4 separate regions of the Homo sapiens genome follow, and regions 1, 3 and 4 are each linked to region 2. The links come from fine-mapping of genetic effects on gene expression. A gene starts in region 2. Each other region holds a variant in brackets. All regions are shown on one strand. Distances are from middle to middle. Region 1 has its middle 39 kb from the start of SPPL2A. Region 2 holds the start of AP4E1 (adaptor related protein complex 4 subunit epsilon 1). Region 3 overlaps AP4E1 (adaptor related protein complex 4 subunit epsilon 1). Region 4 overlaps TNFAIP8L3 (TNF alpha induced protein 8 like 3).

What was found. PIP is the estimated chance that this variant, and not a neighbour inherited with it, causes the effect.
Region 1: its variant is fine-mapped to the expression of AP4E1 in whole blood (INTERVAL, PIP above 0.99).
Region 3: its variant is fine-mapped to the expression of AP4E1 in whole blood (INTERVAL, PIP 0.90).
Region 4: its variant is fine-mapped to the expression of AP4E1 in monocytes (Quach 2016, PIP 0.95).

Annotation. Positions count from the first base shown.
Region 1 is chr15:50,800,928-50,809,068 of GRCh38, reverse strand. No RefSeq gene overlaps it. Among named protein-coding and RNA genes, the nearest start is that of SPPL2A, 39 kb to the right of the region's middle. The variant CAAG/G (reference allele first, on the strand shown) is at 4,643.
Region 2 is chr15:50,904,646-50,912,768 of GRCh38, reverse strand. It overlaps AP4E1 (adaptor related protein complex 4 subunit epsilon 1), which reads right to left and starts at 4,086. Exons shown (of 21, transcript NM_007347.5): 1 at 3,841-4,086; 2 at 620-691. The coding sequence starts at 3,990. RefSeq lists enhancers at 3,010-3,751, 3,798-3,967, 3,988-4,277, 3,752-4,493.
Region 3 is chr15:50,984,029-50,992,028 of GRCh38, reverse strand. It overlaps AP4E1 (adaptor related protein complex 4 subunit epsilon 1), which reads right to left. Exons shown (of 21, transcript NM_007347.5): 16 at 7,884-8,000. Among named protein-coding and RNA genes, the nearest start is that of MIR4713HG, 49 kb to the left of the region's middle. The variant G/A (reference allele first, on the strand shown) is at 3,497.
Region 4 is chr15:51,078,595-51,086,735 of GRCh38, reverse strand. The region is part of intron 1 of TNFAIP8L3 (TNF alpha induced protein 8 like 3); the gene reads left to right. The region is part of intron 1 of MIR4713HG (MIR4713 host gene); the gene reads right to left. Among named protein-coding and RNA genes, the nearest start is that of TNFAIP8L3, 12 kb to the left of the region's middle. RefSeq lists an enhancer at 7,644-7,803. The variant AT/T (reference allele first, on the strand shown) is at 4,691.

The DNA.
Region 1 (8,141 bases), 100 kb after region 2:
ACTAACCTGTGATCTGTCCCCCAGCCCTAAGCCCTGAAATGCGTATCATCTGGCACAAAGACATCGTTTACATTTGTTGAATAGCTGCGTGCTTAGACTTGATCCGATCTTATTCACCACTTATACTGTAAGTCTCTGAGTGTACCCAACAGGAGTCTATTCCTCTTTTTTCAGAATTCAACAGTCTTTAATTATGTCGTGTCCAGTGTTGCTCATACTTGTTTCATGCATGTGAATCTCATCTACCTGGCTATAGTGTAAGCTTATAAGGACTGTCTGAGTCTGATAAATGTTTTACCTTTCCTAAAGTGCTGGTAGCATGACATTTACAGATGCTACTTGACTTACCTTGGGGTTACCACCTGCTAAACCCATCCAAGTTGAAATACCTCGAGTTGAAAATGCATTTAATACACCTAACCTACTGAACACCACAGCTTAGCCTGGCCTACTTTAAACGTTCTCTGAACATTTACATTAGCCTGTAGTCAGGCAAAATCATCTAACACAAAGCCTATTTTATCATAAAGTGTTGACTATCTCAAGTAATTTATTGAATACTGTACATTACTTCAAAATTGTAGTGGTTTCGTACCATCATAAAGTTGAAAAATCGGAAGTCAAACCATCATAAGTAGGGGACGGTCTGTACTTAGCGATCAATTGCCTAAAAGGTTTTTTGACACTGTATTAGGAGATATGATCATATTCCTGCTACTCTGATTCCCCTGGAATCTTGGGTAGGAAAATGTTTGAATTCCTTAGGCTACTCTAAACAGTTCAAAGCCCTGAGAGTCTCTTCCTCTACAACTACTTGTTGCTAATGAAGCTTTTGCCTGTTGATTGAAAGAGTCAGACCTACAGTGAAAGCATTAACCTATAGAATAGATGGTCTCTGGCATAGCTGATACTGTCAGTGCATCACCCACAGCTTCTCTGATCCTTTTTTTATTAGCTCTGGGGCCCATCTCCCACTTTCTGTTTGGTTTCCTTTCAATCAATCCACTTCACTATTATTCCCCGAAACCCAGAATTGTCCCAAGGGAACCATAGCCATTGCCTGAGTAGTGTCTGAGTATGAAAGCAAAACTTATTTGCCTCAAAGCTAGATAAGCCTGAAGGTATGACTTATGCTCCAGAGCTCTCCACAGGATCAGGCTGAGGCCAGACATCATCTGAAATTGTACCTTTGCTTGGCTTCTTTCCCCCTTCCCTATCTTACTCCTCATTCTCTTCTTAAATTAGTGAGGCAATTAGGATCTGTACTTAATAGTGTCTGGGTTGTAGCATAAAAGTAATGAAAAAAAAAAGCTTTGTGTTCCATGATTTTAAATGTTACAGTTTAATAAGTCTTTGTTATTCCCTCAGGATGTGTATCTTTGGAACTCACAACAAGCAATATAAACCATCAACAAAACCAGACCTCAGGAGTCTTTCTGCCCTACATTTTAGAAGGACACATTCTGCCCTGAGCAGGATGATAGGAATAAAGAAACAGCACTTTGGGAGGCCGAGGCAGGCAGATCACTTGAGGTCAGCAGTTTGAGACCAGCCTGGCCAACATGGTGAAACTCCGTCTGTACTAAAAATACAAAAATTAGCCGCATGTGGCAGCGCACACCTGTAATCCCAGTCACTCGGGAGCCTGACGCACAAGAATTGCTTGAACCCAGGAGGTGGAGGCTGCAGTGAGCCGAGATTGCACCACTGCACTCCAGCCTGTGTGACAGAGTGAGATCCTGTCTCGAAAGAGAGAGAGAGGAAGGGAGGGAGGGAGGGAGGGAGGAAGGAAGGAAGGAAGGAAGGAAGGAAGGAAGGAAGGAAGGAAGGAAGAAAAGGAAGGACAACAAACAATAAGAACTGACCAAATATTTAAATATTTCTTTTTCTTTTCTTTTCTTTTTTTTTTTTTTTGAGACAGTCTTACTCTGTCACCCAGGCTGGAGTGCAGTGGTGCAATCTTGGCTCACTGCAACCTCCACCTCCCGGATTCAAGCAATTCTCCTGCCTCAGCCTCCCAAAGTAGCTGGGATTACAGGCACACGCTGCCACGCCTGGCTAATTTTTGTATTTTTAGTAGAGACGGGGTTTCACCATGTTGGTCAGGCTGGTCTTGAACTCCTGACCTTGTGATCTGCCTGCCTCAACCTCCCAAAGTGCTGGGATTACAGGTGTGAGCCACTGCACCCGGCCCTGACCAAATATTTCACAATCAATTCTAATTTATTTACAGATGACATTTATCTATTTCCACTTTTGACAGTGCTTTTCTGATGAGCATCTTAGTGGCTTTTTGGAATTAAATAATGCAAAATGAGTTCGCTAATCCCTTAGTGCTGTCCAGCATACAGTCCACATTTCAATAAAATGCTGCATGATCACTTTATAGAAATGCATCCCCTAATGGCTCCAATTCCCCTCTTACTATATCCCTTGTAATACTTTGGATTCTCAAAAACAAATCTCAGGATCTATTCTAATGAATGGAATACTTACATAACACCCTTTGGCCAGCAATTTCACAAATTTGATTTTTAAAATTTATTGGCTGGGCGTTGTGGCTCACGCCAGTAATCCTAGCACTTTGGGAGCCGAGGTGGGTGGATTACCTGAGGTTGAGAGTTCAAGACCAGCCTGGCCGACATGGTGAAACCCTGTCTCTACTATAAATACAAAAAATAAGCCGGGTGCAGTGGCTTGTGACTGTAATCCCAGCTACTCAGGAGGCTGAGAGAGCAGAATCGCTTGAACCTGGAAGGCAGAGGTTGTGGTGAGCCGAGATTGCGCCACTGCACTCCAGCCTGGACGACAGAGCAAGACTTCATCTTAAATAAATAAATAAATAAAACAAAAATAAAATGTCTTTAAAACTCTTAGATGTGGTAGATGCTGGTGGATGGTGAAAAGAGCACAAGCCTTGAAGTAAGACAGCTCTGGAAATGAATTCTAGTTCTTCTCCTTATTTTATGGCCTTAAGCAAGTTGTTTGATCTTCCTGAGCTTCAGTTTAATTTCCTTAACAAAACCGTTATGAATAAATGAATGGGCCAAGCGCGGTGGCTCACGCCTGTAATCCCAGCACTTTGGGAGGCCAAGGCGGGCGGATCACTTGAGATCAGGAATTTGAGACCAGCCTGGCCAATATGATGAAACCCTGTCTCTACTAAAAGTACAAAAAAATTAGCTGGGCGTGGTGGCGTATACCTGTAGTCCCAGCTACTCTGGAGGCTGAGGCAGGAGAATCGCTTGAACCCAGGAAGCGGAGGTTGCAGTGAGCCAAGATCATGCCATCGCACTCCAGCCTGGGCAACAGAGTGAGACTCCATCTCAAAAAACAAACAAAAACAAAAAACAAAAATTAGGCCAGGCATGGTGGCTCATGCCTGTAATCCCAGCACTTTGGGAGGCCGAGGCAGGTGGATCATCTGAGATCAGGAGTTCAAGACCAACCTGGCCAACATGGTGAAACTCCATCTCTGCTAAAATAAATACAAAAATTAGCCAGGGGTGGTGGCAGGCACCTGTAATCCCAGCTACTCAGGAGGCTGAGGCGGGAGAATTGCTTGAACTCAGGAGGCAGAGGTTGCAGTGAGCCGAGATCGCACCATTGTGCTCCAGCCTGGGCAACAAGAGCAAAACTTTGTCTCAAAAAAAAAAATTAGCCAGGTGTAGTGGTGCATGCCTGTAATCCCAGCTACTTGGGAGACTGAGGCAGGAGAATCACTTGAACGCAGGAGGCAAAGATTGCAGTGAGCCGAGATCGTGCCATTGCACTCCAGCCTAGACGACAGAGTGAGACTTCATCTCAAAAATAAAAAGAAAATGAAAAAAAGAAATGAATGAGATAATATGTATCTGTTGGGGGGGAACTGAGATGTTAATCTGTGTTTTGCTCAGGCTGCTGTAGGTATTTTTGCCTCACTCATCTGAAGAAAGTAGCCCTCTGCTTCAGGGAATGGTTAATAGCCCTAATGTCGCAGGGCCAAAATTAAAAGTTGCCTGACACTTAGAATACAACCTTCTATCTAGTCTTGGAGGTGATATTGCTGGATTATTGGAGGTGGCAGGAGGCACCAAGGGTTGGGAGAAGAAGTAGACCAATACTGGAAATAAAGTTATTTGGGGACTATCTCCCCAAGTTTAGGAGAAAGTGCTTATAGGTTTCAAGAAAATCAGGGACATGTGTGCTCCCACACAGTACTTGGGTCCAAGGCCTCTGATCGTGATAGCTGACTTGGCAGTGTGCCGCACTGCAGGGGGCAAGAAGGGTTGGTCACTAGACTTCAAGTCTTCCAATTTTAGTATACACCTCTGGCTCAACCTGTGCTCAAAAGTAGAGGAATCGCCAGGCATGGTGGCTCAAGCCTGTAATCCCAGCACTTTGGGAGGCTGAGGAGGGCAGATCACGAGGTCAGGAGATCGAGACCAGCCTGGCCAACATGGTGAAACCCTGTCTCTACTAAAGACACAAAAAATTAGCCAGGCATGGTGGTGCACACCTGTAATCCCAGCTACTTGGGAGGCTGAGGCAAGAGAATCGCTTGGACCCAGGAGGCAGAGGTTGCAGTGAGCCAAGATTGCAACACTGCGCTCCAATCTGGGCAACAGGGTGAGACTTCGTCTCAAAAAAAAAAAAAAAAAAA[CAAG/G]TAGAGGAATCACCTATCCACAAGGACAGAACCACCTGTACACCTAGGAGAGATGAGCTCTTGTCCTGGGTCCCACACTTTAGAGAGCCCTACTCTGGCCCTCCATGGGATTGTGCCCCTCTTTATGGGAGAAGAGGTCCACAAGGGGCATGTCCACCTGGAGCCCACACCTCACCCTTGTAGACCGTGCTTCATCTAAATGGGACCCCAGAATTCCCAGCCCAAATGGCCTGAACTATTTCCAGGTCCTGAGCCAGTCTCTTTCCAGGATTTACATTCCTGAAGGCAGCCATGCCTCTGTGTACACGCCTTCACATGAAGGACAGTTAAAAGGTGACTTTTTGGCAGGAATGGGGATTGGTGAACAGAGCTTGGATGTGTAAGCTGGTCTACACACACATGCATGCAAGTTCCTTTATTGTCCTGAACAGAGCTGGGATGGGAAGTGAAAGAGGGGAAGTGTAAGAAGGAAAAAACGCCAAATATACAGGAAAAACAAACTATTTTTTTCTATCCTCACACCACTCTCAATACATCATGTCTGTCACCAGATGTGTGGGGTTTTGTTCCCATACTAAGCCACTCTCCAATTCTCTATGGACACCAACTGGGAATTAAACTCACTTCTGACACTATCTAGTGGGAGTCAGTACAGATTCCAAAGATTAAGGGCTCAGTCCCACAAGACTGCCCCCACATCAACTACCAATCACAAGTCCAGGTTGCCACCTGTGCTTCTGGCAGACTGTCTATAAACCAGAGGTTCTTATGACCTCCTCCTTAGGCTCAATCATTTGCTAGAATGGCTCACAGAACTCAGGGAAACACTTTACTTACATTTACCCATCTATCATAAAAGATACAACTCAGGAACAGCCAAACAAAAGAGATGCATAGGGCAAAGTATGTGGTGAGGGGCATGCAGCTTCCATACCCTCTCTGGGTATACTGCCCTCCCAGCATGTCCACACATTCCCCAGCCTGGAAGCTCTCTGAATACTGTTCTCCTGAGTCTTTATAGAGGCCTCATTATATAGGCATGACTGAATAAATCACTGGCCATTGGTATCAACTCAATGTTTAGCCTTCTCTCCTGCCTGGAGGTCAGGGGATGGGGCTGAATGTTCCAACCCTGTAATCACCTGGATGGTTCCTCTGCAACCAGCCCCCATCCTTAAGCTATCTAGGGGCCACTGAGAGATGCCTCATTAGAACAAAACACTGCAATCACCCAGGAAATGAAGCTCTGTGTAGGAAAAGGAAGAAGACCCAATATATATTTCTTATTATTAATCACAATATCATCAGAGGCCAAAGCTAGGGCCTAGGGCCAGCTTTTCTTACACCTGCACATTCAGATGCAGAAGCCCAAGAAGTCCTCAAATTCTAAATTTGAACAAGGACTTCCAGCTTGTTATGAAAATATATTTGTCAAGACAGAATGACAGAACCTATTTAAGAGGTTGTCAGCTTGATTTATAACTTTCTTTTTTTTTTTTTTTTTTGAGGCGGAGTTTTGCTCTGTCGCCCACGCTGGAGTGCAGTGGCGCAATCGCGGCTCACTGCAAGCTCCGCCTCCCGGGTTCACGCCATTCTCCTGCCTCAGCCTCCCCAGTAGCTGGGACTACAGGCGCCTGCCACCACGCCTGGCTAATTTTTTGTATTTTTAGTAGAGACGGGGTTTCACCACTTTAGCCAGGATGGTCTCGATCTCCTGACCTCGTGATCCGCCCTCCTCGGCCTCCCAAAGTGCTGGGATTACAGGTGTGAGCCACCGCACCTGGCCTGATTTATAACTTTCAAATATTTAATATAAACTTCCATTTGTATTCTCATCCTAGACCCTGAAAATATTAGAAGTGGGCCAGCCAAGAAACCACAGGACTAGGATCAACACCCAGCAGTGGTAGCCAGTGTGGTCTGAAGACCAGAGGGCTCACCTCTGAATATTCTGGAATGTGTAGGACCCTGGGAAGGTGAAGATACCCTAGGAAATGCCCCCCTCCTCAAAGTAAACATGACAAAACCCAGATTTCCCATCTCCCTTGACCAATGTGGTACAGAGCCAGATTTAACTTCATTTAGAATAAAAATGGGCAAAGACTTTTGTCTGTCCTGTTCACTGCTTTCTCCCTCCATAGCACTTAGAACAGTACCAATATACTTTTTTTCTTTCTTTCTTTCCGTTTTTTTAGAGACAGGGTCTCAGCATGTTGCCCAGTTTGGTGTTGAACTCCTGGCCTCAAGCGATCCTCCTGCCTCAGCCTCCTAAAGTTCTGGGATTACAGGCATGAGCTACCACGTCTGGCCCCAATATACTTTTTTTTTTTTTTTTTTTGAAGCAGAGTCTCGCTCTGTTGCCCAGGCTAGAGTGCAGTGGCATGATTTTGGCTCACTGCAACTTCCACCTCCTGGGGTTGAAGCAATTCTCCTGCCTCAACCTCCCAAGTAGCTGGGATTATAGGTATGCGCCACCACACTCAACTAATTTTTTTATTTTTAGTAGAAACGGAGTTTCACCATGTTGGCCAGGCTGGTCTCGAACTCCTGACCTCAAGTGATCTGCCTGCCTCGGCCTCCCAAAGTGCTGGGATTACAGGTACGAGCTACCGTGCCTGGCCCCAATATACTTTTATTGGATTAATGAATTCTTGCTCCCAGTGTGAGGGACCAAACTCTTGCCTGCCACATGTGTAAGCTCCTGTTTTTTGTTGTTGTTTGTTTTTTTGTTTTTTTGAGACAGAGTCTCACTCTGTCGCCCAGGCTGGAATGCAGTGGTGTGATCTCGGCTCACCGCAACCTCCACCTCCCAGCCTCAAGCGATTTTCCTGCCTCAGCCTCCCGAGTAGCTGGGATTACAGGCACCCGCCACCACACCCTGCTAATTTTTGTATTTTTAGTAGAGACAGTATTTTGCCATGTTGGCCAGGCTGGTCTCAAACTCCTGACCTGAGGTGATCCACCCACCCCAGCCTCCCAAAGTACTGGGATTACAGGCATGAGCCACTGCTCCCGGCCAAGCTCCTGGTTTTGTGCTACCACATATTAGGTGTCAGTGTCAGGTACTTTATTTTATTTTATTATTTTATTTTATTTTAGAGACAGGGTCTCACTATGTTGCCCAGGCTGGACCCAAACTCCTGGGTTCAAGTGATCCTCCCACCTCAGCCTCCTAAGTAGCTGGGGCTACAGGTGCTCACCACTGCCAGGCACGTTTTCTTTGTGCTGAACACTATATGATACTTATTTGTATCTAACTTGTCAGATGAATCTAGAATACTCTGTTTATTTACTAAATTATTTTAGCACCTGTGGACTGTCTGCTAGGCCCAGACTACTGGCTAGGTCTTGCCTGCCAGGTTCTCTTGCTTACTATCATCATAAGGAAATGACATCCTACTTTCTGATGGAGCCCCTATCTATTAAAAACTCAGTTTCTTGGGTCCTGTATCTGAAACCACTTCTGTTTCACCCACAGCTTTGGGGCTCTAGACTT
Region 2 (8,123 bases):
ATCGGTTGAATCCAGGAGGCAGAGGTTGCAGTGAGCTGAGATCACGCCACGCCACTGCACTCCAGCTTGGGCAACAGAGCGAGACTCCGTCTCAAAAAAAAAAAAAAAAAATCAAACTGAGTTTTAATCTAGCTATGCTGGGACAGCCCCACAGTGGCCTGCATAATAATGAATGACCATTCATTAAATAGTTGCTGAATATTGTTTGAAAAATCAGATTATGTAGAACAAACTTTAAAAACAACTAGGTCTTAAATAATAAAATTAGATATACCTACAATATATTAATTCAGGTCTGAAAATATCATGTTGAAATCCCAACCTTTTCCAAATGCATAACATTAAAAACATCAGATCAGCACTAGGGTCCCAAGAGTATCTCCACATTTATGTAATCATCATCACATTAGCCCTGACTTCACATAGGCAAATCTTGTTCTGGTGCAAACCAGTCAACAATAAAAGGCTAAAGTTAACATCTGAGTTGCTACCAACTATAATTCATTTTGACTATGATAAATCAAATTTTAGCAACCGATCATCAGTTAGATGCCACTATTGAGTCCACAGTGACTAGATTTCAAATTCAAATGTGTTGGCACTGACTATGCAAACCTACCAGTGTTGTAGTAGGAGCAGAAACAGTCGCTTTCAGACTACTCAGTTCCTGCTGGATTAATTTTTCTTCTTCCTGAGAAAGTGAAAATATTTAAATGCTTGATTAACTGTCTTTTAAAACTGTAACAGCATTTATCTAAACGGAAAAATATAATTTACAATACTTTTAATTTAAAAGAAACATTATTTTAAAGGAGAGTTACAAATACTATCTGCTTACGATCTATCTAAAGGCATTTCTCCAAACCTCAGAACCATCCCTGGAGAGAATAAATATTTCCAGGCTAACCCATCCTTCCTCTTTTCTTTACTCAGTTACTTCCCCTTAATGGTAGAATAGCAGAAAATGTTTTTTTTTAAAACTAAAGGTGGAAGCCGGGCACAACAGCTCATGCCTGTAATCCCAGCACTTTGGGAGGCCAAGGCGAGTGAATCACTTGAGGTCAGCAGTTTGAGACCAGCCTGGCCAACATGGCAAAACCCCGTCCCTACTAAAAATACAAACATTAGCTGGGGGTCCTGTAATCCCAGATACTCGAGAGGCTGAGGCAGGGGCAGGAGAATCGCTTGAACCCGGGAAGTGAATGTTGCAGTGAGCCGAGATCGTACCACTGCACTCCAGCCTGGGTAACAGAGCAAGACTCCATCTAAAAAAAAAAAAAAAAAAAAAATTAAAGGTGGAGAGAGAGTAGAAATTCTCCATGTATTGGCCCAAGAAAAGAGTCTCATCTCACATCTTCCCCTTAGAAGTAAAAAGTCTTCATGGAATTAAGAAACAGGGTAAGAAAGCAGAAACAGAAATAGGTCTTTTTCCCTTAAACTACATTCTTCTTCCCTGTCTTTTCCTCATTCCCCAAATCCTTTCCATAACTTCCTATCTCAGACACATACCAATGTGGTCACTCCTACTGTCTGCATTGTATGTTATCTCCCTAAGCACTTAAAAAATTGGCCCCATTTTTTTTTGGCTAATATCATGCTACCTTTAAATTACACACTGAATTACATGTTCATCAGATGGCTATTCAAAAGCCACTAGTGACGTACTGATACACGTGGATGCCTATCTACAGTTTCAAACTGCTATTTAAGACCAAAAATAACTTTTTAAAAAATTTTATTGAGGATCCCTTAAAAATTAGCAAAGGACAAAAACCTTAAGAAAAACAACATTATTAAGGCCACAAATGGCCAGGCGTGGTGGCTCACGCCTGTAATCCCAGCACTTTGGGAGGCCAAGGCCAAGGCAGGTGGATTACCTGAGGTCAGGAGTTCAAGACCAGCCTGGCCAACATGGCGAAACCCTGTCTCTACTAAAAATATAAAAATTAGCCGGGTATGGTGACGTGTGCCTGTAATCCCAGCTACCAGGGAGGCTGAGGCAGAAGAATCACTTGAACCCAGGAAGCAGAAGTTGCAGTGAGCCAAGATTGCACCACTGCATTCCAGCCTGGGCGACAGAGTGAGACTCCATCTCAAAAACAAAACAAAACAAGACAAGCCCACAAGTAATGATTCTGGAATGTGAAGCAGGTTCTCTCCGGATAGCATCAACTTATTAGAGCTGCCAAAAAAATATTTTTTTTAAACCTTCAGAGCACTTTCTTTTCTGTCTTTCCTTCTCTTTTAGCACTTCTATTGCATTGTAGTCATGCTTATACTTGTCTTAAGCCCAAAACGAATGACTAATTCCTTGGGAAAAGGGAATGTGTTTAATTCTATTTTCCTGTGTCTAACACATAACCTTGTTCCATAAACATCTGTTGAACAAATAATGACATTAACACGTGCTCTTTTTAAGATATAAACTCCTTGTAGCTGTGAATCGGTATACTACACAATCCGTGCAACCATCGAGCGCCTGTGGGGGCCCGGCGCGGTGGCTCATGCCTGTAATCCCAGCACTTTGGGAGGCCGAAGTGAGCGAACACTTGAGGTCAGTTCAAGACCAGCCTGCCCAACATGGTGAAATCCTGTCTCTACTAAAAATACAAAAATTAGCCGGGCGTAGTGGCATACGCCTATAATCCCAGCTACTTGGGAGGCTGAGGCAGGAGAATCGCTTGAACCCGGGAGGCAGACGCTCCAGTGAGCCAAGATCGCACCATCGCACTCCAGCCTGGGCGACAGAGCGAGACTCCGTCATTAAAAATTTAAAAATTTTAAGGCCGGGCAGGGTAGCTCACGCACGTAATCCCAACACTTTGGGACGCCAAGGCGGGCGGATCGCGAGGTCAGGAGATCGAGACCATCCTCGCTAACACGGTGAAACCCCGTCTCTACGAAAAGTACAAAAAATTAGCCAGGCAGTGGCGGGCACTTGTAGTCCCAGCTACTCGGGAAGCTGAGGCAGGAGAATGGCGTGAACCCGGAAGGCGGAGCTTGTAGTGAGCCCAGATCGCGCCACTGCACTCCAGCCTGCGCGACAGAGCGAGACTCCGTCTCAAAAAAAAACAAAAATTAAAATTTTTAAAACCTTAAGGCTCCAGCGAGCCGAGATCGAGATCGCACCATTGCACTCCAGCCTGGGCGACAGAGAGAGACTCCGTCAATAAAAATTTAAAAATTTTAAAAGTTTAAGAATTTTTATAACTGCTCATTTTCAAAGCCCACTTGAGGCAGAGACTTAGCAAATTTTACATTTTGAGAGAACTGTGCTTTTTCTTTGCCCAACACGTTGTTGTAACCCAAGAACCTCAAGCTCCCCAAAGATATTCAACAAGAGGCTCACAGGATCTCTTCAGGTATGCGACATCTGAACTGTTGTTCAGTTGAAGGCACCGGGGGAGAGAAGGAAACTGAGTAGGGAAAAAAAACTTTGTGGAAGGTAAATAATGTCTGACACTTCCATCGCACTAGGTATTTTCACACGCTTGACATCTCACCCAATCCTCAAAACAAACAAAAAACCTATGAATTATGTATCAGTACTTTTCCACCACAACGTTGAGAAAACACACGGAGGCTCAGAGGTTACAGAGATGTGCCCCCGATCAAAGAGTCAGTGTCAGAACTAACTGTGGAAACTCGGCTTCCCTGCTGTCAGTCCCAGCAGGAAAGTGAAGCTTCCAGGCAGACGAAAGGACGAACCGACACAGCAGCCCCTGAGCCCCGCCGGAGGGCTAACCCCAGAGGCCCTGAAGTCTCGCCGCCCGGCCAGGGCCTCCTGGCGCGGGGGCCTCACTCCGATGTCCCTGAGCTCCCGGGCCGGCGGGCACCTACGTGCTTGGAGGTGAGGGCTGTGATGCCGCGGACAAGGCTGCCCAGCCTCGAGGAGAAGGACGCCTTGGCGGCCGCGGGCCCACCACCGGGCTGGTTCTGCAGAAAGAGTCCCGGCAGCGCCGTCAGCGTCTTCTCCACTATGTCGCTCATCGCCGCCGCCGCCCGCGATGCCGCCGCCGCCCGCGATCCCGTAGCCGCCCGGCTTCATGCCCGGCCGCCGCTGCCGGCCCGGCCTCCGTAGGCACTTCCTGTTTTTTGAATAAGAAATCTTTATTGGCGTCCCACCTGAACAAGTTCAGCGTCGTTCTCGCGAGAGGCCACCAGAGGGCGCAAGAGACCGCGGGGGTGGAAAAGGCCGCTCGCTCGAGATTGCGCGCGTAAGTAGACCTCCTTTCTCGCGACGGGGTAGCGGTTCCGGAATCCCCCAGAACCGTGAGTCCTCCTGAGGAAGCCGTCGGGGGCCTGGCCCTGTTAGGCACTGTCTCCCAGAGTCCCCCTTTCCCACTAGCCGCCTCCGCGTAGCCCGAGACCGCGTCAGGAGTTGCGTCTTCCTGGCTGCGCCTTTTTCGGGACGTCCCCGCGCCGTCCGCCGCCTCTCACTGTCCCCGGAGCGCGCGCCACCCGCCCGCTTCCCACAGGCGGTTTCACGCGGGTCCCCGGCGCCGCGCGCGGCTCCGGCCCTGGCGACTCTTGGGACACCCGAGTAGTTGCGTGATAGCGGGGCTGTCCTGAGGATTCGGCGTGCCAGGTTGAGAGCCCGTCGCGTGCCGGGGACTCGCGGCCACTGTCGCTTCCCGTCCGCCCCTCTTCTCCTGGGATTTGGGGAGGTGGGCGGGAAAGAGAACTGGTCGGCGGCCACCCTTGCCGACTCCTCCTCAGCAGGTCGCAGTTGAAAGGTCATCCTTCTAGAGCCCACTCCCCTGGCCCGGCGGGCAAGGATAGGTCTCCAAGTCCCACCCTCTCACAGCGCTCGGTTCTGTTCCACTTTAGAACAGGTCGCAGTTGCCACTACGTAAACAGCTCCCCATAGAGAGAGTATTTTATTCATTCCGATTGCTCCGTCTTTTATCTAGAACAGAGTCTGGTACAATGGCTCTCGAAATGTGGTCTGGTGACCTCAGGGTCGCTGAGACCCTTCTAGGGAATTCACAAAGTCAAAACAACATTGATAACGTTTCTTACGTGTTATTTGCCGTTTTTACCCTCATTCTGTTGGAAATGTACAGAGTTTTCAAGCGGCTAGATGACGATTGACTAGCTGGTAAAATGTATCCTGGAGTATCCTTGTGTTTTCTAGAATTTTCTAAGGTAGTAGGTTTAGGGCATAAATACGTGCGTTTTCAGAGATTAATGCAATTTGCTCTCAGTACTCCTAGTGTGTTTCTAGGAGGTAGGTTAGGTAGGTGGTGATAGCCTCCCTTCAAGGGGAACAAACTTGCTAAATAAATAGAACAAACCAGCCCATAGTGTACAAACCACATCCGAGGCTCCTGGTTAGAAAATTTTGCAGCAAAGAGGTACGAGAGCAGAAGGGAAAATCCCCAAACTCTCACAAGCGCAGAAACCCATGATCAGTGTCGTTGGGCTGAATTATACTCATTATAATAGTAAAAAAAAAAAAAAAAAAAAAACACCACTCCTGGGTGAAGATTTAAGATACTAATAAGACATGCAGTGTATGTACTAGCATATACAACCACAGCGCACATGGCGACAGAAAACCAGAGAACGTGCTTAATAGCAGCACCCGTTCTCCCCGCTTCATGAATGATCCTGTGAGACTCCTACAAAGGGAGTTTCCCCAGTGTCAGTGCATGCTGTCTCACCTTTGAGCAGCCCGCTCTGATCAGCTGTGAGGGTGTACTTTCGCTTTGCAATAAACTCTTTTGCTTGCTTTTACTTTGGACTTCAAAATTATTTTGCACCGCGAAGTCCAGAACCTCAACCGGCCCACCAGCTACAGCTACACTTACAAGCTATCTTCGGTTATACCTGCTCTAATCTCTGTAACCTCCTTGTCACCTAATAAATGAGTTTTTTTGAAATCCTGAAGTTGTTTTAATACCTATATGGGAACATAAGAAAAAAGTTCAATTTGTTGGCTTGTCTCGCAAGAATATTTTTTAATATATTGAGAACATTTTAAAATATTTAAACTTTATCTAAAAGGGATACTCATTTATTCATTTAATTTTTTTTTTTTCAGAGTCTCGCTCTATCACCCAGACTGGAATGCAGTGGCACAATCTGGGTTCACTGCAGCCTCCTCCCCCTGGGTTCAAGCAATTCTCCTGCCTCAGCCTCCCGAGTAGCTGGGATTACAGGCGCCCGCCACCATGCCCGGCTAATTTTTGTATTTTTAGTAAACACAGAGTTTCACCATTTTGGCCAGGCTGGTCTCGAACTCCTGACCTCAGGTGATCCGCCCACCTCAGCCTCCCAAAGTGCTGGGATTACAAGCGCGAGCCACTGCGCCCAGCCAGAAAGGGATACTCTTTTAGAATTTAATTTTGTTATTTTATTATTATTTTTTGAGATGGTGTCTCGCTCTGTTGCCCAGGATGGAGTGCAGTGGTGTGATCTCGGCCCACTGCAACCTCCGCCTCCCAGGTTCAAGCAGTTCTCCTGCCTCAGCCTCCCGAGTAGCTGGGATTACAGGTGCGTGCCACCACACCCGGCTAATTTTTTGTATTTTTAGTAGAGATGTGGTTTCACCACGTTGGCCAGGATGGCCTCGGTCTCCTGACCTCATGATCTGCCCGCCTCAGCCACTCAAAGTGCTGGGATTACAGGTGTGAGCCACCACGCCCTGCCTAGAATTTAATATTTTGTCGTCCGGGCGCGGTGGTTTATGCCTATATTCTAGCACTTTGGGAGGCCAAGGCGGGCAGATTGTCTGAGCTCAGGAGTTCCAGACCAACCTGGCCAACATGGTGAAACCCCGTCTCTACTAAAAATACAAAATATTCGGACAGGCACGGTGGCTCCCACCTGTAATCACAGCACTTTGGGAGGCCAAGGTGCACAGACCACAAGGTCAGGATATCAAGACCAGCCTGGCCAACCTATGACTCTACTAAAAAAATACAGAAATTAGCCGGGCATGGTGGCGTGCGCCCGTAATCCCAGCTACTCGGGAGGCTGAGGCAGGAGAATTGCTGGGACCCGGGAGGCGGAGGTTGCAGTGAGCCGAGATTTCACCACTGCACTCCAGCGTGGGCGACAGAGCAAGACTCCACCTCAAAAAAAAAAAAATACAAAAAATTTAGCCGGGCATGGTGGCACACCTGTAGTCCCAACTACTTGGGAAGCTGAGGCAGGAGAATTGCTTGAACCTAGGAGGCGAAGGTTGCAGTGAGCCAAGATCGCACCACTGTACTCCAGCCTGGGTGACAGAGCAAGACTCTGTCTCCAAAAAAAAAAGGAATTTAATATTTTATCTTTAAATTAAATTTTGTTTTATGTATAGTTTTTTAATTTTAGGTTCTTCCATTGGCTTAAAAAGGGGATACTAGAAGATTCGCTTTCTAACCTTCCCGTCTGTAAAGATGCCGAAAAAGATGAAGCTGACATCAGTATCAGAATTCACTGACTCAGGGAAAGGGAGAAATCTGGTCGAAACTATAAATAACAAAGGAAAGTATGACAAAAGCTTCTTTCTTTCCCTTGGCATTAGAGATGTTAATCACTTGCCTTATTTTATGTCATTCAACAGAACATTTTCAAATACTATTATGGTGCCAATCAAGTTGAGGCATCATTTTCAGACCAGTCAGAATTTAAAAGAAAGGGAATTTAATACTTTCAACATAGAGATGATATGCTTTATAAAAGCCAAAGCTTTTGTATTACCATTTTCAAAGTAAAAATGAAAAACCTACTGAAGCATCTTACACATGAAATTATTATATTTCATTGATAGGAGAAGGACATGCAATAGCTAAAAGACTAATGAATGCCTGCTAGCTGATAATCAGTAAAAGAACTCATGGGAGTGCTACTTTCCAAAGATGCAATAACTCACCAAATTAGACATTTAGTTGCAGGCCAGGCGAGGTGGCTCATGCCTGTAATCCCTGAATTTTGGGAGGCCAAGGCAGGCGGATAACTTGAGATCAGGAGTTTGAGACCAACCTGGCCAATATGGTGAAACCCTGTCTCTACTAAAAATACAAAAAAAAAAAATTAGCTGGGCATGGTGGTACATGCCTGTAATCCCAGTTATTCGGGAGGCTGAGGCTGGAGAATCACTTGAACCTGGGAGGCAGAGGTTACAGTGAGCT
Region 3 (8,000 bases), 79 kb before region 2:
AAATATACAATGTTTATTTGGCAATTATATCTCAATAACACTGGAGTTAAAAAAAAAAAAAAAAAAGAACTATGTGTCCTTGGCACTTGACTTATTTAAGCATCTCTGTCATGGTCCAAAATGGCATTTTTAAAAAATCATTTCTACTACAAGATGAGTTGATCATGAAATGAACAAAAAGGAAGACTCAGAAATATTTCTACTAATTATTATTAGTATTGAAATTGTTGGAATCATGATCAATGTGATTTTGAGCCCAAAACAAAACAAAAACAGGTAATTACACTTCATACTGAGTGAAGAATTAATGCTATTAAGAAGTAAGTAGCTACAGGAAAATCTGAATGTTAATAAAAAATGCCCTAAAGGGAATTGGTTCATTCCTTCTCAATGATTTTTACTGCTGAGTATCCCTTTACAAATATCTTCATTTCCCCCTTTCTTCCTCCAGGTTCTAAAAGAGTTTTCTAAAGAAAAAAAAAAGTTATATAATAAACCTCTTAGACAAAAATTGGTTGTACTTGCCATAAGCAGATCCCAAGTGGTCATGGGAACCACTAAAATAACTCCTACCATTTCTAGAATAGAATTCTCAAAAGAAGCACCTCTAGGGAATTCATGAATACCCACAATAGTATTATAGTATCTGTATACTCCCTTTAACCAAAATATTACCTTTATTTACAAAAAAAGAGAGAACAAGTCCCTAAATTTTACTAATCCATGATTTAAATAGTAGTTTAACAACAACAACAAAAGGCCGATGTGGAGGACAATGGGCTGCTCCATCCGGATCTCTCTTCAATGAAGGACTGTTGACCAGCTGTTGGGAATGCTGTCATCTCTCAGCCCCTTCAGGGATTGCCTGAGCTGCAGAGGGCTACTTCACGCAAGATCACACCCCTTCCAAGGCAGCCTACATCCAGTGATGGATGAATGGAAGTATAAAGTCCTTGCCATCCATCTCGGTCCAACTCAGCACAACTCTGAAGGGTCATTCCAGCTCCAGAGCTCCCCATGGGGTCAGCAGAGGTTGTCACCGGCAATGCATTGCATCTTAACTTCTGCCCAAACCTGCTTCTTTTTCCTTCCTTCTATAGATGTTGATCCCAACGACACTCCTAATTATTCTGCATACTAAATGCCATCACAGAATGTGCTTCCCAGGGAACTCAATCCACAACTGGCAAAAAGGGGCAGGAGGTACAAAAGGAGCCTAAAAGGAGCCTCAAACTATTTTAAAGATTTTTCTTATTTTCTTATTTATTTCATCTGCATACATACTTATGATCGACACAAATATTCTGTTAAGCATACATACAGACCATCTAAAAAGTGGGAAAATATGGCCAGGTGCAGTAGCTCACACCTGTAATGCCAGCACTGACGCTGAGGCAGGCGGATCACTTGAGCCCAGGAGTTCAAAACCAGCCTGGCCAACTTGGCAAAACACTGCCTCTACTAAAAACATAAAAATTAGCAGGGCATGGTGGCAGGCGTCTGTAATCCCGGCTTTGAATGTGTACTCCACATTCAAAGTCTGAGGCATGAGAACCTGGGAGAACCCACTAGAACCCAGGAAGCGGAGGATGCAGTGAGCCAAGATCATGTCACTGCACTCCAGTCTGGGTGACAGAATGAGACTTGTCTCAAATAATAATAATAATAATAATAATAATAATAAATTAAATAAATAATAAAAAATGGGAAAATACATAAGAAAGCAACATAAGGCCATTTCATATAAAAAATATGCTTCTTAATTATATGAAACATTAGAAAAATAATATTTTTAAACATGAGTCATCTTTGCCCGGATTTTGACAATACTATTATATAATACATGGTTTTCTACGGTGTGCCCTTGTATTGTTTTTATTCAGACCATTCAAACATAGATGTAAATTCTGACCAAGTAACTAACCTTCAAAAGACTAGGGATGTACTTTAACTCAGCTCTAGGAATTCCCATTTGAGATAGGGTGCTGCCAGTTAAGAAATTATAAATTAGACTTGCTACTACTTTATTCTCAGGTTGCCAGGGACTGTAAAAGAGCAACTGTCTTCCCTCTAAGATGATTCACCTTGCCAATTACTATGTTCCTCTTCTGAAATAATGTGTGAGCTGAGGTCCTCTTTGGAAACAAATTTTAAATTCATCCCTTATCTTCCATTTCACAATACTGCAGGATATATTATATAATTCCTTAGCAGTTTTGCCAAATGTCATTTCTCTGAGGGTAGTAGATGTATATGTATGGCATTTACAAGGCCCTGTCACACCCCCCAGATCCTAGTTCAGTACTATAGTAGTAGATGCTGTCACCTGTTGTGCAGGTAAAAGTGTGTAAGTTCCTCCCTGGGTTTGAAGGGTTCCTGTCTCTTTCCCTTGTCCCTTTGGTCCCTGTTTGGGACACTTAATTGCTGTCACCTCCATCATCAAATGCCCACAAACAATATTTGCTCCCCATGCTTGGAGTATCAAAATTAAATATCTGGGAAAGAAAATAAGGAGGTTAACAGAGCAGGAAAAAAAAAAAAGATAAGAAAAAGAATTTGAACTCATGCCATTTCATTCAACATATTCTACATTCCTCATGATCTATTATTAGTATCTTTCTTCTGATAAATACTTGTAACCATTTCATTGAACAACAGACAAATGTAAGGATGAACATAAAATAAGATGACTGATTTCTTAATAAATACAGAAGAACTCAAAATTCAAATGTCATCCTTTAAAGTTGTCACTTTTGAGATTTTATCACATTTATTCCAACAATGCGGCCATTACTTAAAACATTTTTAACTCTATTAGATGCAGCTTCTTCCCAAACAAGAAAGCCATTTCCTTACTTTACTGTCGCATCAGAATATTGATCAAAATTATACAGATTGATCACAAATATTATCTGGTAAACTCACCTCTTGGGTAATGAAGACAATGATGGTAATGACAATCATTATTAATAACAGCAACTACCATTTATCAATCACTTACTATGAACTGGGCTGTACTATGTACTTACAAATGTCATCTCATTTTATTCACTTAATTATGTTTCTAAAGGTAACTAATTATGTTTCCAAAATCAAAGTATACCTAACAAGGATGAAATTCGGCTCCAAATAAGACATTTTAGCAAATGCTCACCAATTTTCAAGGTGGCTGGAAAGTAACTCTGAAAGCATTTTCAGCAAAGTATACAGCTTCCATAGGTGACTACGGATGGTCCCTGACTTACAATAGTTCAATTTAATGATTTTTTGGCTTTACAACGGTGTGAAAGCAATAGAGTTTCACAGAAACCATACTTCAAATTTTGAACTTTTATCTTTTCCCAGGCTAGCAATATGTGATAGGATATTCTCTTGCAATGCAGAGATAATAATGAGCTAATACAATAATAAATAGGCTGGGCACGGTGGCTCATACTTGTAATCCCAGCACTTTGGGAGGCCGAGGTGGGTGGAGCACTTGAGGCCAGTAGTTTGA[G/A]ACCAGCCTGGCCAACATGGTGAAACCCATCTCTACTAAAAATACAAAAAATTAGCCGGGTATGGTGGCAGGAGCCTGTAATCCCAGCTACTCGGAAGGCTGAGGCAGGAGAATTGCCTGAGCCCAGAAGGCAGAGGTTGCAGTGAATCGAGATCATGCCACTGCACTCCAGCCTAGGCAATAAGAGTGAAATTGTGTCTCAAAAAAATAATAACAATAAAATAAAATAATAAACAATAATGGGCCAATGATCAGCAGAACTGAGTTCTAGACATACATCTGCTGTTTGGTAGATCACTTCTGACTTACGATATTTTCAATTTATAATGGGTTTATCAGAATGTAACCCCATCATAAGTTTAGGGGCATCTGGCCTTCACTGGGTGACCAACTATATGGCTTCCTCAGGTGAAATCAATCACCTTATTTTATGTTCACCTCTATATCTATCAATGTTCCAATGAGACGGTTACAAGATATATTTATCAGAAGAATGAGGAATGTAGAATGATATGTTAAACATCAGCCTGGATGTATAAATTCTAATATGCTTCTAAATATATATATATAATATGTAGCAATAACACATATTATTACTACGTATAAAGCTTGTACATATTTTATGCTGTCTTGGAAGGTAGATAAGCTCTTAAAGAACATACTGTACAATATAAATACCTTAAGAGCAATAAATAGAAACCACTGAAACAACAGCCCATACAATTTAGCTTTTAAAAACCTTTCTAAACCATTATATTAAAACACATTGTCACAAGTGTGTCTCTCCCTTTGAAAATTATGTGAAAACCTAGTTGGAAGTAAAGCACTCCTCAGCAAATGTAAAAACAGAAATTATAACAAACTGTCTCTCAGATCACAGTGCAATCAAACTAGAACTCAGGATTAAGAAACTCACTCAAAACCGCTCAACTACATGGAAACTGAACAATCTGCTCCTGAATGACTACTGGGTACATAACGAAATGAAGGCAGAAATAAAGATGTTCTTTGAAACCAATAAGAACAAAGACACAACATACCAGAATCTCTGGGACACATTTAAAGTAGTGTGTAGAGGGAAATTTATAGCACTAAATGCCCACAAGAGAAAGCAGGAAAGATCTAAAATTGACACCCTAACATCACAATTAAAAGAACTAGAGAAGCAAGAGCAAACACATTCAAAAGCTGGCAGAAGGCAAGAAATAACTAAGATCAGAGCAGAGCTGAAGGAAATAGAGACACAAAAAACCCTTCAAAAAATCAGTGAATCCAGGAGCTGGTTTTTTGAAAAGATCAACAAAATTGATAGACCGCTAGCAAGACTAATAAAAAAAGAGAAGAATCAAATAGATGCAATAAAAAATGATAAAGGGGATATCACCACCGATCCCACAGAAATACAAACTATCATCAGAGAATACTATAAACACCTCTACGCAAATAAACTAGAAAATCTAGAAGAAATGGATAAATTCCTGGACACATACAGCCTCCCAAGGCTAAACCAGGAAGAAGTTGAATCTCTGAGTAGACCAATAACAGGCTCTGAAATTGAGGCAATAATTAATAGCTTACCAACCAAAAAAAGTCCAGGACCAGACGGATTCACAGCTGAATTCTACCAGAGGTACAAGGAGGAGCTAGTACCATTCCTTCTGAAACTATTCCAATCAATAGAAAAAGAGGGAATCCTCCCTAACTCATTTTATGAGGCCAGCATCATCCTGATACCAAAGCCTAGCAGAGACACAACCAAAAAAGAGAATTTTAGACCAATATCCCTGATGAACATCGATGCAAAAATCCTCAATAAAATACTGGCAAACCAAATCCAGCAGCACATCAAAAAGATTATCCACCATGATCAAGTGGGCTTCATCCCTGGGATGCAAGGCTGGTTCAATATACACAAATCAATAAACGTAATCCAGCATATAAACAGAACCAAAGACAAAAACCACATGATTATCTCAATAGATGCAGAAAAGGCCTTTGACAAAATTCAACAGCGCTTCATGCTAAAAACTCTCAATAAATTAGGTATTGATGGGACGTATCTCAAAATAATAAGAGCTATTTATGACAAACCCACAGCCAATATCATACTGAATGGGCAAAAACTGGAAGCATTCCCTTTGAAAAGTGGCACAAGACAGGGATGCCCTCTCTCACCACTCCTATTCAACACAGTGTTGGAAGTTCTGGCCAGGGCAATCAGGCAGGAGAAAGAAATAAAAGGTATTCAATCAGGAAAAGAGGAAGTCAAATTGTCCCTGTTTGCAGATGACATGATTGTATATCTAGAAAACCCCACAGTCTCAGCCCAAAATCTCCTTAAGCTGATAAGCAACTTCAGCAAAGTCTCAGGATACAAAATCAATGTGCAAAAATCACAAGCATTCTTATACACCAATAACAGACAGAGAGCCAAATCATGAGTGAACTCCCATTCACAATTGCTTCAAAGAGAATAAAATACCTAGGAATCCAACTTACAAGCAATGTGAAGGACCTCTTCAAGCAGAACTACAAACCACTGCTCAAAGAAATAAATGAGGATACAAACAAATGGAAGAACATTCCATGCTCATGGGTAGGAAGAATCAATATTGTGAAAATGGCCATATTGCCCAAGGTAATTTATAGATTCAATGCCATCCCCATCAAGCTACCAATGACTGTCTTCACAGAATTGGAAAAAACTACTTTAAAGTTCATATGGAATCAAAAAAGAGCCCGCATTGCCAAGTCAATCCTAAGCCAAAAGAACAAAGCTGGAGGCATCACTCTACCTGACTTCAAGCTACACTACAAGACTACAGTAACCAAAACAGCATGGTACTGGTACCAAAACAGAGATATAGACCAATGGAACAGAACAGAGCCCTCAGAAATAATACCACACATCTACAACCATCTGATCTTTGACAAACCTGACAAAAACAAGAAATGGGGAAAGGATTCCCTATTTAATAAATGGTGCTGGGAAAACTGGCTAGCCACATGTAGAAAGCTGAAACTGGATCCCTTCCTTACACCTTATACAAAAATTAATTCAAGATGGGATTAAAGACTTAAATGTTAGACCTAAAACCATAAAAATCCTAGAAGAAAACCTAGGCAATACCATTCAGGACGTAGGCATGGGCAAAGACTTCATGTCTAAAACACCAAAAGCAATGGCAACAAAAGCCAAAATTGACAAATGGGATCTAATTAAACGAAAGAGCTTCTGCACAGCAAAAGAAACTAACATCAGAGTGAACAGGCAACCTACAGAATGGGAAAAAATTTTTGCAATCTACTCATCTGACAAAGGGCTAATATCCAGAATCTACAAAGAACTCAAACAAATTTACAAGAAAAAAAACAAACAACCCCATCAAAAAGTGGGTGAAGGATATGAACAGACACTTCTCAAAAGAAGACATTTATGCAGCCAAAACACACATGAAAAAATGCTCGTCATCACTGGCTATCAGAGGAATGCAAATCAAAACCACAATGAGATACCATCTCACACCAGTTAGAATGGTGATCATTAAAAAGTCAGGAAACAACAGGTGCTGGAGAGGATGTGGAGAAATAGGAACACTTTTACACTGTTGGTGGGACTGTAAACTAGTTCAACCATTGTGGAAGACAGTGTGGTGATTCCTCAAGGATCTAGAACTAGAAATACCATTTGACCCAGCAATCCCATTACTGGGTATATACCCAAAGGAGTATAAATCATGCTGCTATAAAGACACATGCACACGTATGTTTACTGCGGCACTATTCACAATAGCAAAGACTTGGAACCAACCCAAATGTCCATCAATGATAGACTGGATTAAGAAAATGTGGCACATATACACCATGGAATACTATGCAGCCATAAAAAAGGATGAGTTCATGTCCTTTGTAGGGACACGGATGAAGCTGGAAACCATCATTCTCAGCAAACTATCGCAAGGACAAAAAACCAAACACTGCATGTTCTCACTCATAGGTGGGAATTGAACATTGAGAACACTTGGACACAGGAAGGGGAACATCACACACCAGGGCCTGTTGTGGGGTGGGGGGAGGGGGAAGGGATAGTATTAGGAGATATACCTAATGTAAATGACGAGTTAATGGGTGCAGCACACCAACATGGCACACATGTATACATATGTAACAAACCTGCACGTTGTGAACCTGTACCCTAGAACTTAAAGTATAATTAAAAAAAAAGAAAATTATGTGAAAACCACTGAAACAATAGACCTCTTGAAAGTTATCCTAAAATAAGCAAATAATGACCATGATGATATGAGGCAGGAGCAGAAGGCAAATGGAACGCTAAAAGACATTTAAGCACTCCCATAACCTCAATTTTAATAAGAAATGAACTTACTCTTTCAGTCCTGTCTCAGCACTATTCCCAGATACATCTGAACCAAGAGAAATGCCAGCAGGAGACTGTCGTCCAGTGAAGCCAGATGAAGAAAAGGAGAGTCCATATGGTTCAAAA
Region 4 (8,141 bases), 170 kb before region 2:
AATTGTTTATATGGTAGTTGATCCTTATACCAGCCTTCTGGGCTATGTACTATAAATAGCCCCAATTTATAGAACAGAAAACCAAACACAGAGAGGTTAAGTAACCTGCTCAGGGTTGCACAGCTTGTCAGTAGAAATGAAGCCAGTCTAACTCCAGAGACTCTTCTCTTGCACCAGGTAGACTACGTAATTAGATTCACGGATGCCACCAGGCTGTCTTGCATCCCCCACACAGCTCCCACGGTTCCCAGAACCCTAACCCTTAGGCTCCCTCTGTTAGGTGAGGGCATTCTGCCTCCACAAAGGCCTGCTTTAAGCTGCAGACATTCCCTGCATTAGCCTATAAACAAAATGGGGAAGGACTGGCTGACTCCAGATCCAGATCAGGGGATGGTAAAGGGCGATCTGTGAGGGAAGATGGGAGAGTTAGCACAAAGCCACTGCTAGGCAGAAGGCCCTAGAAGGACGCTCCAGCCGTGGGCTTCTTCTGGATCACATGGGCCTGGTGAGAGAGGAGAGAAGAAGGTTTGAAAAGCAGAGTTAAGAGAGATACCAAAGTCAAATACACCCTTTTTCAAAGTGTGCTTAAGCTGGGTCCTAAGCCCTTTTTTTCACCCCAGCATTTAGAATCATTTCAGATATACAATCCCCAGGACATGGTGACCAGCAGGACTTGAGGAGAGAAAATTCAAAAGGTGAGAGTGCAACATAGTGAAAAGAACTTGACATTCAGAGCTGGATGACTCAGGTCTGTGTTTCAAGCATTGTCGCTTAGTTATTGCTTGTCAGTAACATTATTTTCTGACCAAAAAAGTGCAAGCTCATGGTAGAATATGTGAAAACAGTACAAGGAAGAAAATTAGATTGAGCCCTAAGAGAAGACTGCACTATTCCAAGAAGGTGGTCCAAAAGCAATTTGAAAAAGATGTGAGAGCTTTATTTAGGGAGAGAGGAGGGTTTAAAAAGAATGAGAGTCCTGTTTCTGAAATGTTGACCTGGGATGCTAAAAACATTTTGTTCCACTGTCAGGCAGTGTTAGAACCAGAACTGGAGGCCAGATCCCATGGCTTCTTTGTGTTTACCCCAAAACATGTAATTAAAAAAAAAAAAAAAAGAATCGGAGCTATTCCAGGTATTGAGATATCAAAAGGACTTTTGCTGTTTTTCCTTCTGACACCTTCTACTGTGTTCTTGCCACTCCCTCCCATCACCTGCATTTCCTTTCTTAGGTTTCTCCATCCTGGGCCCATTTGCCACAGGTCAGACCAGCACAGGCCCACGCTAGCACGTTGCCCAGGGGCCTCCTTCCCTTGGGTCAGGCCCACTTCTCTTTCTTAGTCAGAAGAGCCCTCCACAAAGCCCTCAGAAGATTAATGCATTTTTTTTTAATACTTGAGAGGCATTTGGTAGGTTTTACAGATGCCCAGTGACAATTGCAAAGGTTAATTTACTTTGAGCTTAAATAGCTACCAGCTTCAAGAAAAGTTTATTGGCCACTAGTTCTCCAATTACATTTTATCTTTCTTTAGATTGATTTTTTTTTTTATTGTAAAGAAACTGGCATGTTTGTTCATCCATGTTTGGTCTCTCTACCTTTAGGATTTAACTTCATAATTCGCTGAGTCAAACAACGCAGGCAGAGCTAAATTTATACAGGGTCAACTTTTAGAGAGCCCACAGCAGTATCTGGTAGGTATCAAACCTGAATTTTTGTGACTCTATTTTTCTTTGTTTCTAACTTCTCTGTGTATAATCCTGGTTTCTCTGTACCTTCTCAGTTGCTCCTCCTGCATCCCTCATTAATACCTTTTTCCTAACTATGTCCCTTAAGATGGAGCTCTTGCCTTGCTTTTTTCTGACAAAATACTTTATTAGAAAAGACCATCCATTCTTATAACAATAGCTGTAAGCTTTTGGGAAGCTAAAGGCTCCCAAAGTTGTACTCTAGCCCAGTCTTCTTTCCTGAGCAAGAATCCTGTCTTCTAAAGGCCCCGGACCCCTCCTCCTCACTGTTTAGGAGACACCCCAACACACCCACTCCAGGCCATCACCTTTCCCTCACTTTTTCCCAACTCTGCTGGTGGCCTTGACAGCCACCGAGTCACTCGAAGTTAAAAGACTGTGAAATCATAGAACAGTGAAAACTCCTCCACACATGTTCTCATAGCAAAACCATGACATGGATAAAGCAGGTATTATCATTCCTAGTTTACAGATGAAGAAACAGATGCAGAGAGATTAAATTATCCCAATCACAAAGTAAATGGCAGATTTTTGCTATTTAAAACTGGCCAGGGCGGGGGCAGAAACAAACCTAAATAAACAACTTGAATATTCAGTCAAATATTTATGGAATGATTAAATACATAATGACATTTCCACACAGTGGGATATTATTCAGATGTTAAGGAAAGTTAATTTGAAGAACATTTGATGATATAGGGAAATGTTCACATTATAACATTGTCAAAGAAGGCTCAATAATCTGTGATCCCTGTTTTTCTGTATGTACGTATATACATAAATGTGCATACACACACACACACACACACCCCTATACATCTACCCCTTTGTATATGGAGAGGGGGAGAAATCTCCCCTCACAGTCACACACGTAAACACTTGAGATTTTTTGTTAATGCTCGAGCAAAATAAACCACTCTGTGATGAGTGCATAGGTAATTTTAATTGTCTTCTTTGTAGTCTTCCAGATTTGTCTTCAGTGAGTACATGCAGCTTTCAGCTGGTAATTTGCTTTTATAAACAATAGCCAAGTGAGCTGCAGTGCCTGTTCCCCAGCTCATCCTCCTGCAGGCTTGTCCCAGGCCCCTCCGTCCTCTCCCTTGAAATTTGCTCTTCCATCAATTCCCTGTGTTCCAGTCCTCTGTGGCCCCCCTCACTGGCTCCGCCCAGCCCCCTGCCTGGGGTGATCCAGCCTTCTGCCCTGTTCACCCCCTGCCCTAGCCTCAGCCCTTGCTTTCTCTGGTGCCTCCACCCCCATCACCACCTCCTGCTCTGAGCCCACCTGGCCTAGCCTTTGTGGGCCTCCATGCCATGAACAGGGTCAGAGCTTGTAAATATGAGGCCTACAGACTGGCCAAGGACACTGCAGCATCCCAGTCTAAACGCACCCGTGGGTGAGCCTGTGGACTCAGCCATCTTGGCTTTCTTGAAACTCAGCGTCGCTGCTGCTCGCTGGCTGGCAGGGGGTCCACTTGGCAGCTCTGACCCACATGCCCTCTGCAACCCTTCCTCTGTCCTTGACCTCTATTCCAGATATGAGTGACATTCACTTCCCACATTTTCATTTACCTATACTAATTTTGTGTTTTTATTACTTTTTAAATTAGAGGGGGATACAACGACATTTAAAAGCCTGTTGTAACGGGATTGTTAGCTTTTAGGAGGTATTGGTCTGCCACCACCACCGTCAGTCCATCGTTCCAAAAAAATTTATTATTGAGGAGTGGTGTGATATTAAATATAATGTGAATCTATTTCTGAAGGAATTAGACTGAAATTTAATTGAAGATTCCTTGTGCATCTTGAAGCTAAAAATAAGAGATCATACGGTGGCCCCAGAATCCCTTACTCCCCTCTAGCCTCCCAAGCAGAGGTAGCCCAGTCAGGAGGCTTCTAGAAAAGGAAGTGCCCACCATTTAGATTCACATTTAACAGAATTTTTAACCCAGTTTTAAATTAGCCCCAATCACCCTTAATAGTTGGTATTCCCCATCAGCCAGGATTTTGTCTATCTTTATTTACTTTCTTGGTTTATATTATGAAAAATGATTTATCCTTACTCCTTTTCAGGTATAAAATTATACAGTCAGGTGCTGCATAATGATATTTTGGACGTGATAGTAGTCCCTAGGCTTACAATGGAGCTAAAAATTCCTTGCACCTGATGATGTTTTGACGATCTTGACCCTTTGTCGGCAGAGACTAATGTATGTGTTTTTCTTAGTTTTTAACAAAAAAGTTTAAAAAGTAAAAGAAAAAAATTAATAGAAAAAAGCTTATAGAATAAAGATATAAAGGAAAAAATAATTTTTGTACAGCTATACAATGTGCTTGTGTTTTAAGCTAAGTGTTACAACAAAAGTCAAAAAGTTTTTAAAAATTTAAAGTTTATAAAGTAAAAAAGTTTCAGTAAGCTAAGGGTAATTTATCACTGAAGAAAGAAAAATGTTTTTTATAAGATTAATGTAGCCTAGGTGTACAGTGTTGATAAAGTCTATAGTAGTGTACAGTTATGTCCTGGGCCTCCACATTCACTCTCCACTCATTCACTGACTCACCTGGAACAACTTCCAGTCCTGCAAGCTCTATTCATGCTAAGTGCCTTAGAGAAGTAGACCATTTTTTATCTTTTATACTGCATTTTTACTGTACCTTATACATGTTTAGATATACAAATACCATTGTGTTACAGGTGCCTACAGTATTCAGTACAGTAACATACGGTACAAGTTTGTAGCCTAGGAGCAAAATGCTGTACCATATAGCCTAGGTGGTAGTGGGCTTGACCATCTAGGTTTGTATAAGTACACCGTATGATGTTCACCCAATGGCAAAATCCCCTAATGCATTTCTGAGAACGTAGCCCCATCAAGTCACTCATGACTCTATGTTGACTATGCTTTTTCACGCTTCCAGAAAAGTCCCCTCATTAAAAAAAAAAAAAAAA[AT/T]TCACTCTTTCTTAGTTTTCAAGTTGAAAGCAGGAAAGTTCCCTTATTTAGTGCCTTTATGAAGGAGCCATCTTTTCTTATTATTTGCAAGTGAGTGACTATGACCACTGTGATTTTAAAAGGAGAGATCAGGGAATAAGAGAGGGAGAATGATTGAGACAGGAGCAAATTGTTGGACAAAGGGAGCATTGTGCCCAAAATGATGGATAGCTCATCCTAAGACCAGCAAGCGTGGTAAGCACAAGGGCTGCTACCAACCACCTCTACCCAGGATTTCTCCTCATCCTGGGAGGGAGGTCAGTGATGTGCCGAGACTCAGGGAATGGATGAGGAGGCCTGTTTCCACCCATTCTTAGTGTTTTGTTTTGTTTTCTGTTGTGTTGTTGTTAAAAAACAAACTATGTAAAAAGTAGCTCTGCCAAATTGTCATCACTCAATGAGAGTGGCTGAGGTCTGAGCAGCATGTGAAGAGGGTGGAGGTTGGTGCTAAGACAGCACACAGGTGGAATCAAGGCCAGGTGAGGGCCAAGAGCAGCTGGTCAGTGGTTCAGGGAGTCATGGGGCACATGACAGGAGTGCTGTAGGACAAGTCCATTCTCTCATGAGTCACTGAGTCCCGTCATGGCTGCCCCAGCTTTCTTGAGCCCCTCCACCTGGAGGGTAGCCTCTTTTAAGCTCAAAGAATCTAAAACTTCCAGAAAAGCTGGGCCCCCCATGGGCCCTACCCATCTTGTCCACACTCCAGAAGCTTAATATCTCCTCCTGACTTCACCCTGTCCTCCCCATCTCCCTGGTCCCAGCTCTCTGCCTCACCTGAGATGTCTTCCCTTCCCTAGCCCATCTCAGGCCCAGATGCTGCTCTCCGTTTCCACTGCCTTGGGCCCCCACCCACCCCCACAAGCCCTCCTGAGTGTTAGAGGGACTAAGGCAGTGAAAAAGCCAAGTCTTGTGGCCATTCCTGGAGTTAAGTCACGAAGCAAAAATCTTAAAAGCTTCCAGAGAGAAAAAAAACAGGCCCTTACCAATGTATACTAGTTTTCTAAATAGCAACACTGAACTTTAGACAACAATGATGCCCTGCCTTTGAATTCTCAAGGCAAATGATTTCCAACATAGAGCTCTAGACCAAGGCAAACCATCCATCAAGGGTGTGGTTGGAATAAAGTCATTGTATGATATGTTAGATACCAAAAAATGACTTTATCATGTCCTCTTCCTGAGATAGCTGCTTACTCAGGCGGCAGCCAACTGAGGCCCCCAGGCCAAATCTGGCCTGCCACCTGTTTTTGTGTTTCCATTTTTAAGTACACCTTACATGGTTATTTACACTTTACATGGTTATTTAAGTACCTATACAATATCCTCTATTTTGCCTTTTTCTCCTTTACTCTGTGGCTCTTTAAGGCGGTTTGCCGAAGTCTGTGCTAGACCAAGTGCTCCACTGAACCGAGGACCAAATTAAGAAAAAGGAGTTGTGAGATCCAAGAAACAGGAGATGGACACAGGAGAGAAGGGGTAAAGAGTGAAGGGAGGACCCAGGATGACTACGTGTGTCAGGCATCAAGAGAAACATGCCCAGACTTGAGTTGGGGGACAGAGGGCTGCCAGAGATATCTCCAAGAAAAAAAAAAAGTGGAAGCAGTTGATTAGTTGATGTGTTTGAACCTATTGAGAAGAACTTTCTATTCTGCTACGAACTTTAGGAATGAATTTGCACTAGACAGATAAAAAACTAACCAGGAGATTAAAAAATAGTGTTTAACTCCTGGGAAAACAAGATGAATAAGAAAGGAAATGCAGGCATGGAAGTTATAGGACACTACATGACTTGGCTATGAATGATAGCTAAATCATAGTAATGTCATCGCTGAAGTTTGATTTAACCAAATGTTGAAAGAGAAGCAAATTGGAAGGTGGAAGGAGAAATGAATGGGAAAGAAAGCTAAGTTTTCACCTTCTGTAGTAGACAGTTAAAAGCAAATAAAATCAAGAATTAACAGTGTAAGCATGTAATTTAAATATAGAGAGGTAATTATTCATTGAAACAGCTAAAATAGTTTAAACTATTTTGTCTGTAAGTAGCTAGCATCAGAGGTGTGCTGGGGATGCTACATCATGTTATAAGCCTCCCTTGTGGAATGACTTTTCTTTTTTTTCTTTCTTTCTTTTTTTTTTTTTTTTTTTTTTTTGAGACAAAGTCTTGCTCTGTCACCCAGGCTGGAGTGCAGAGTGCAGTGGCATGATCATAGCTCACTGCAGCCTCGAACTCCTAGCCTCAAGTGAACCTCCCACATTGGCCTCCAAAGTGCTGAGATTACAGGCATGAGCCACCATGCTCAGTCTGATTTGACTTTTTAAATAATTGTACCCTGTATTACTTTGAAAATAATTTTCTTAATAAAAAGAAAAGAAGTGACAGAGCAACCTGGTGAGTGATGTGGCAACCATTCCCAGGTGAGAGTGTCTCAGGCCCCTGGTTGGAGGACATGCCAGCTCTCATTATCATTATTGTTCCTGACATGAGTGTGAATGCATTTCAATAAAATGTCATGAGTGAGAGCCATGCATTCAAGCAATGAACATTCTCTGTTTCAGTCCCTAGCTACAGTTGCCCAGATAAATAAGCCTTGGTCCCTGCCCTCAAGGAGTTCACAGACCAGTGGGTGATAAAATTCCTCATCCAGCTAGTGGATGACTGATTGCTCCACAAGGTGATAAGTGACAGGGCAGGTGATTGCAAAAAGAAATTGCCTAGAAGTCAGAAGTCATTCAAATGGAGCCCTGGAAGCTAAGCAGGAATTGGGCTGGGAAGAGAGTAAGAGGTCAGTGTCCCAGCACAGGGACAGAAAATGCAAAAGTGCAAGGGGACCCAGGCCTGGTGCAGGTGAGACCTGCCTGTGGCCTGGAGCTGGGAGCTTAGGGTTTGTAGAGGGTGAAGAGAAGACAGATGTCAGTTCAGTGGCCTGGTGTGCCATGCTAAAGAGTTGTCTGGGCTGTCTTGAAGGTTATGGGAATCCCCTCAAGGCCTTTTCTAGAGGAGCAGCATCATCGAAGCCTGCTGTCAGCCTGGTGTGGAAAATAGAACAGTAGCTGGGGTAGAGAGATGAGCAAGGAGACAGACAAGCATTCGGGGAAGAAACCATGAGGGTCTGTACTGAGGTAGCGAAAGAGAGGCAGAGGAAGGCAGGTGCATTTAAAGATGTTACAGAAGCTGAATAGACAGTCGGAGGCCTCGTTAGATATGGGAGGTGAGGGAGAGAAATAAGGCAAGGATGGTCCCCAGGTTCTTGTCTGGACACAGGCCGGTGGCAGAGTCACGTATCATACAAGGAGAGGACTTCAGGAGGGTTGGAGAAAGGAGCTGAGAGAAATGTTGAATGTGGAGGGGGAGGGATCAGGCAAGCAGTTATGGATGGGAGAGTCCCCTGGACTGGGGAACATGCGGGGCAG